2 linked regions of the Homo sapiens genome follow. The protein of the gene in region 1 purifies or fractionates together with the protein of each later gene. This does not show direct contact. Each region holds a gene or a part of one and is shown in the gene's direction. Other genes may lie near its edges.

Region 1 (3,500 bases):
GAGCGCTGGAATGGGGTGGGGCAGAAATGGGAAAGAAGTTATTTAAAGTCAGCTGGTGTGGGAAGCAGCAGGGGAGGGAGCTTCTTGAATCTTGTTTTGGTTATTTTTCCCACCGGGAAACTGCCCCTAAATCTGGCATATATGGCTTTTTTGATAGTGTATTGATCACATTCCCTTTTAGGACACTTTAGGTTGTCTGGAGTTTGGAGCCCGTAGGAATATTGAAGAAGTTAGTGAAGAAATGCTATACAGTCATTTGTTGATTAATGAAGGGGGATAAGGTCTGAGACATGTGTCGTTAGGTGATTTATTCATTGTGCAAACACCATAGAGTGTATGGTACTTACACAAACCTAGAGGGTATAGCCTACTAAACACCTAGGCTACAAACTTGTACAGTGTGTTACTGTACTGAATACTGTCAACAATTGTAACACAAATCACCAGGCGATAGGAATTTTTTAGTTCTATTGTAATCTTATGAGGCTACTCTCATATATGCAGCCCCTCATTGACCAAAACATCATTATGCAGTGCATGACCATATTGAGAGTATTCGTTTTTTATTTACTAAAAAATAGTCAAAACTTGAGGAGGAAGAGACAGATGTCACTAGAAAAAGGGAGAAGTCCGGTAAGGGAGAAGTCAGCTTCCTGAGGTGGAATCGTATTACCTTTGGGATTAGGACATTTCATTGTCATTATTCACCAGTGTAAAACACTTTTACATTTTTCTACTATTATTACTAAAAACATTTTTCTACTACTTTACAAATCCTATTCTGGAAGTGGGCTCTACCTAGCTTAGAAGATTGTCATTCAGGAGTAGTATCCCTGATGGTCTTGTTTCGAATTTTGTGTTGTCTTTCCACCTAAGTCAAAAGTGAGGCTGAAGGGGATCGAAGACTCCATTTTTTTCTGGCCCCCAATCTCTTCCCCAGTAACTGTGATATATCTGATATTTATAGCATATGAGTCTTTATCCCTTTGTAGGTCTTTACTTCTTAACTTAGGGATTCTCAACCTTCTCTAAACATAATCACTTAGGGAGCTTTTAAAACCCAAAGTTAGGATGCACCCAAAGCCAGTTAAATCAGAATCCCTGGGGATGCAACCCAGGCGGCAGCATTTAAAAAATACCCAAGTGATTCCAACCTACAGACAAGGATGAGAAAACTCTCCTAAACTCTTGTATAATGACATCGGCATGAAAATGAACTCACCTGAAACTGACCTTCCCAGGACATTAAGTCACTAGTTGGCTGCTTATGGCACTTGCCAGTGTCCAGCAGTTTCCTGGCTGCTCCTGGAGGTTGCCAGACACCCGGTTCCCCCATTCTCAATGTTGGAGGCCCACAGTCTCTGCACTTAGGGGACCAGCTGTAACCTCCCCACCTGACCAGATGAACCGCGGGGAAACAAAGCGAGAAGCTCCCACCTACAGGATGCAAGGACCCAAGCTGGGATTTGTGAGAGTCTCAGCAGAGGCTGTGAGGAACTCCACAGAAAATGAGGCAGGAAAGCAAAAGTTCCTTGTTAGGGCTTGGAGGAGGAGAGGGTTGTCAAGCATGTTTTCTTTATTATTCCCACACATAAGGGAGCTGGCTTTAAGAGCTTTCTGTGACAAACCTGAGGAGAAAAAGCCCTGAGACTTAGAAGGCATTTAAGAATACAGCTCAAGGGGGAAATCGGTGGAGACTGTATCTGCGGTGGTTTTCTCCACCTGTAGCCAGAGGCTCTCTCATAGGGTTCTGTGGCTTTCCTTGGGGTGCCTTTTAAAGGCATCCCAGTCCAGCCCAGGACTGACTGGATTCCAGGAGATCTCAGAGGCTGGTCTGACACCAAAGAAGGCTGTAAAGAGAAGAGACCATTTGGATGACTGTTTTCATGGAAAGTGAGCCCCAGGGAGGCTGGCCTGAGATTACACAGCTGATTATGGGCCTCAGCCTGACTCTTAAAACAATGCTTGTGTATTTCTTAATCGTAGCTATCATTTGAGTTTTTAACTATGTACAAGGTATTGTGCTAAGCGCTTTACAGTCCTTCATAATTCTCATAGCAGCCCCATGGGGAAAGTACTATTATTATTCCCACTTTTACAGATGACGCCCAGAGAAGACAGGTAATGTGTCCGAAGTCACGCAGCAGGAAACTAGGAGCCAGAGTCAACCTAGGAAAACTGCATTTAGAACAGGAGGTCTAACCACTGTGCTCTACACGCGGGTGGTTTTCACTTCGTGAAGTTTTGGGGAATGGGGGTAGTGCTTGGGTTATAATCTTGCGGTTGGGATCAGGCCCTTTAGGGCATATTCCGGCTCCAGACCCGCCGCTCAGCTTCTCTGGCTCCCGGGCATGGGAATCTGGACTCGGGAGCGGAGCGCTCCCGCGGCCAGCAGGAGTCGCTATTGCCCTTAGCAGCCAGCTCCGTTACCCCGGGTCACCACCGCGCCGCGGAGGGGCCCTAGAAGTGGAAGCCAGAGCCCTAGTGCAGTGGCCTCCCGGAGCGCCCAGCTCACCAGGTACCCCCGCAGCGCGCCGGGAGCGCCTTTCTCCCCGCCGCCGCGAGCATGCGCAGTGCCCCCAGCCAGTCCCGGGATCCACGGCGCGCGCCCCTCCCAGCCGCGCGCGCCCGCCTGCGGTTTGTCTGCGCAGCCCTGGAGGCTGCGACTTCCGGACTGCTCCTGGCCGCAGGGGGCGCCGCCATCGCACAGAGAGGCCTGGGCGGGGCGGACCGGCGCTGGGCAGCCAGGACAGCCGCGGCAGCCGGGTCCGCAGGGCAGCAGCCGGCCTCTCCCACTGCAGCCCTCCCGCCCGCCTACCGTCCGGCGCGATGGCGGGGAGTAGCTCGCTGGAGGCGGTGCGCAGGAAGATCCGGAGCCTGCAGGAGCAGGCGGACGCCGCTGAGGAGCGCGCGGGCACCCTGCAGCGCGAGCTGGACCACGAGAGGAAGCTGAGGGAGACCGTAAGGGATACACCCATCACCCCGCAGCCCCCAGAGGCGCATCCTCCCGGGGCAGCCCCGCAGGGCCCTCCTGCTTCCCCCCCCGCAGGCCCCGGTCCCTCGTCCCCACGCCTCCAGGGCGCACCTGGCGCACCTGGGCCAGCTGGCGGCGGGCTCTGGGGAGGGGCCCGGCCTGTTCTCCTGAGCCTTTGTTTTCCATCTCGCTGATCCAAAGTAAACGCTCCCAGGGGAAACGGGTGGTGTTGAGAAGGTTCTGGAAGGAGCATTTTCCCAGGAAGGGTCTGTTTCTGGGGTGGTGGCTTTCAGTCGTGTCTGTGCGTCCCCGGGAGGTGCACTTTGCGCTGCTGGCTTGCTTTACTCTGAGAGTGGAGAGGGAGGAGGTCCTTCCTCTTGGAGATCCGTACTTTGAGAAGGGGCGCCGACAGGTCAAGTGGGAGAGGCACTGTGGACTTGGGGCCCGGGGATGCTACACTCCGCCGTTCCCGTCGACCCTGTGGTTTCCCGGCGGCCTGTGTCTCCGAGGCGGTAGACAGACATTG
Region 2 (3,500 bases), on another chromosome or scaffold:
TTGAATCCCAGAAAAGTTTACCTCTGTGAAATTTAAGTTTTCAGAACCTCTCTTTCCTGTCTGGAAAGATAATTGTTGGTTCTACATACCTCACGTTTTGAGATGGTCAGAAGAGATCATGTTGATCATGTTTTTGAAACTATTTTGTAAATAGTAAAATGTACTTTACAAACAATAACACTTATTATTAATAAGATCTAAATGTAAGTCAACTCCTCCATGAAATGTTTGAAATTATGAACTAGAATTAATTGCCCAGACTTATGATACTTAGATTATATCCTTTATTAGGTTTATGTATGCAGGTGTTGGTCTTTTCAAATAATTTTGAAATTCCTTAAGATTAACAAATGTGTGTTGCCATTGCTATGTCCTATAACACAAGCATTGTTTATTGAAATAAATGGGAAAATTTTAATTTATGTGCAACCTTGAAATCATTATAATTTAAAATTGTTAGACTTTATTATTTAGTAAACTGTTCCCTTATCACATAAACTGAGGACCACATGACTACTAAAATTACATTTTTCTAATTTAGAAAAAAAGCAGCCTCAGTAGATTACTTTATATTGTCATTCCTTTTTCATATGATTGTCGAATATTGAAAAAAAGTTATTTATTATTACAGTTTATCTACTTTTAGACATTTGTGTATATTATTTTTCTCTGAAATATTTTTTTCCACAATGAATAGAATATATAGCCAAGGCACTTATGATCTCAGAAGACACTGCAGTTTATTAGCATACTTAGTTCTGTCACTGTGTAGAATTTTACCTTCTTTTACCATCTGTCCTTTATTCAACAGATACATTATTGCATTTTTGAATGTATTCATCTGCACTGCCTTAGAATTATCTAGAAATTAAGTACTTTATATTTATTTTGTCCTTGTGCTAAATGTGATTTTTATTTCATAAGTTAGAAATGGTAATAAAGTATAGTAGATTATGGTTTTTGGATTCTTAAAAGAATAAACTCTTTCCTTTAGGTCACTGAGTTGGAAAATCGGCTGAAATCTTTTGAGAAAAGGTCGAGAAAATTAAAAGAAGGGAATAAAAAATTAATGAAAGAAAATGATTTTCTGAAATCCCTCTTAAAACAGCAACAAGAAGATACAGAGACCAGAGAAAAAGAGCTAGAACAGATAATAAAGGGGAGTAAAGATGTAGAAAAAGAAAATACTGAACTTCAAGTAAAAATCAGTGAGCTGGAGACAGAAGTCACTTCCCTGAGGAGACAAGTGGCAGAAGCTAATGCATTGAGAAATGAAAATGAAGAGCTGATCAACCCAATGGAGAAATCACACCAGTCAGCAGACAGAGCTAAATCCGAGATGGCCACCATGAAAGTGAGATCTGGACGATATGATTGTAAGACAACTATGACCAAGGTTAAATTTAAAGCTGCGAAGAAAAATTGCTCTGTGGGTCGTCACCACACTGTTCTCAATCATTCCATCAAGGTTATGAGCAATGTGTTTGAGAACCTCAGCAAGGACGGCTGGGAGGATGTGAGTGAAAGCAGGTAAGGCTCTCATTAACTTAGCTCTGTGGTGGGGACACTGCGCATATGTAAAGCACTAGCAAATGGAGATTGAATTTCAACTACTGTCGATTTGGTATTCAGAAAAAATACTGTCAGATCCTTTGAAATATCTTGGGAGGTCTTGTTCTGAGCTTATTGACTGAAATTTGCATGCAAAATTAGCCACAACTGCATGAGTACTTGAATAGGTGCCAGGAAACCCAAAAGAAGGCAATGCTTGATTTCTTTCAGTGATGCTATTTTCATGCAGTCATGAGGCTTGAAATTGACAGTTTGGCAGGTTGATTTAATCTGCTGGCCCTTTGCATATTCACCACTGACAGCTAAGGATTCCCAGGCAAGCCTACTAAGTCGGTTTAGTTATCTTGTGACATACCAACCTGGGAGGAGAAACAATTTTCCCCCTTAATTTAGTTAGATAAATTTTGAATGACCCATTTCAGCTTGTTACCAGATGTCTACAAGCTGTTTAACATCCTTTAAATTAAGAACCATCTTCACTAATTATTTTATGTATGTATTATGCAAAGTCATTGTATTAACTTTAATTGAATGGTGGTTAAAAATTAGTTCTTTAAAGTTATAGCTCTAAAGATTCCTAGTCTTAAGATATGTACCCCTAGTGAACAGCAACAGGAGGATACTAAAAATCTATAATGCTTCTTTCTCTTACCCCTGGCTATACATTCATATATGCACTTGAAACACATCAGTAAAACTGTCAGAGGCCTGTGAACCAGAGCAACTCCATCTTAAATAGGAGCTGGGTAAAATGAGGCTGAAACCTGCTGGGCTGCATTTCCAGATGGTTAAGGCATTCTAAGTCACAGGATGAGATAGGAGGTCAGTACAAAACAAAGGTCATAAAGACCTTGCTGATAAAACAGGTTACGGTAGAGGAGCCAGCCAAAACCCACCAAAACCAAGGTGGCCACAAGAGTGATCTCTGGTTGTCTTCACGGCTACACTCGCACCAGCGCCATGACAGTTTACAAATACCATGGCAACATCAGCAAGTTACCCTATGTGGTCTAAAAAGGGGAGGCATGAATAATACACCCCTAGTTTAGCATATCGTCAAGAAATAACCATAAAAATGGGCAACCAGCACCCCTCAGGGCTACTCTGTCTATGGAATAGCCATTCTTTTATTCCTTTACTTTCTTAAAAAACCTGCTTTCACTTTGCACTGTGGACTCGCCCTGAATTCCTTCTTGTGCAAGATCCAAGAACCCTCTCTTGGGGTCTGGATCAGGACCCTTTCTTGTAACAAAACCACAAAGACGAATGATAGAACACCTCTTTTTTACATCTAGACAGTAGGGAAGTTCAGTGTTGCCATAATTGCTAACAAATTGCCCAATTTGCCATAATTTTAAAAATTCTGCCTTGTTTTATAATGACATATGTCCTTGATTTTCCCTAGTTTTTTATTTTGTTTTGTTTTTAAATCCCTAATAGTGATTCTGTTTTAGATTTGGGATGCCTCCGGATACTTTTCCTAATCACAGACATAGAACTGAAAATTACCTTAAAATGTGGTCCCCAAACTTGTTTGCATATTAGAAGCACCTGGAGGTTTTATAAACATTCCAAAGGTTAGGTCACACCCCAGACAAATTAAATTATAACCTTTGGAGTGGGATACAGGCCTAAGTATTTTTTCAAGTTTCCCTGTTGAATCCAATGTGCAGACAAGTTTGAGAAACACTGTTTTTAAACATCATCTACTCAAGCCCCTTGTCCTCAGGCAGTTAAAGAAACTCAAAAAACATATTCATGAAGGAAAGGCCAAAGGACCAAATCTGCATTCCCATTTCGGTGTTACCGAGGTTCTTCTTTCCTTCTCTCAATAGCAATTAGAGGTAAAAACTTACTTCCCACCCACTAAGCGTTATCTTTATATCTCATTATTCCTCTGTCTTCAAGGAAATTCTAGTGCTAGCTAC

The links. The genes of interacting proteins can lie anywhere in the genome.
Region 2: the proteins of TPM1 (region 1) and CNTLN purify together in Homo sapiens (affinity purification with mass spectrometry; 3 studies listed by BioGRID and IntAct, with this or other methods). This does not show direct contact.

Annotation. Positions count from the first base shown.
Region 1 is NC_000015.10:63,045,747-63,049,246, forward strand, and holds part of TPM1 (tropomyosin alpha-1 chain), read left to right. Parts: intron 1-287; exon of another isoform or gene 288-2,829; coding exon of another isoform or gene 2,830-2,961; intron 2,962-3,094; exon of another isoform or gene 3,095-3,500. UniProt on the Homo sapiens protein: Binds to actin filaments in muscle and non-muscle cells. Plays a central role, in association with the troponin complex, in the calcium dependent regulation of vertebrate striated muscle contraction.
Region 2 is NC_000009.12:17,393,540-17,397,039, forward strand, and holds part of CNTLN (centlein), read left to right. Parts: intron 1-994; coding exon 995-1,530; intron 1,531-3,500. UniProt on the Homo sapiens protein: Required for centrosome cohesion and recruitment of CEP68 to centrosomes.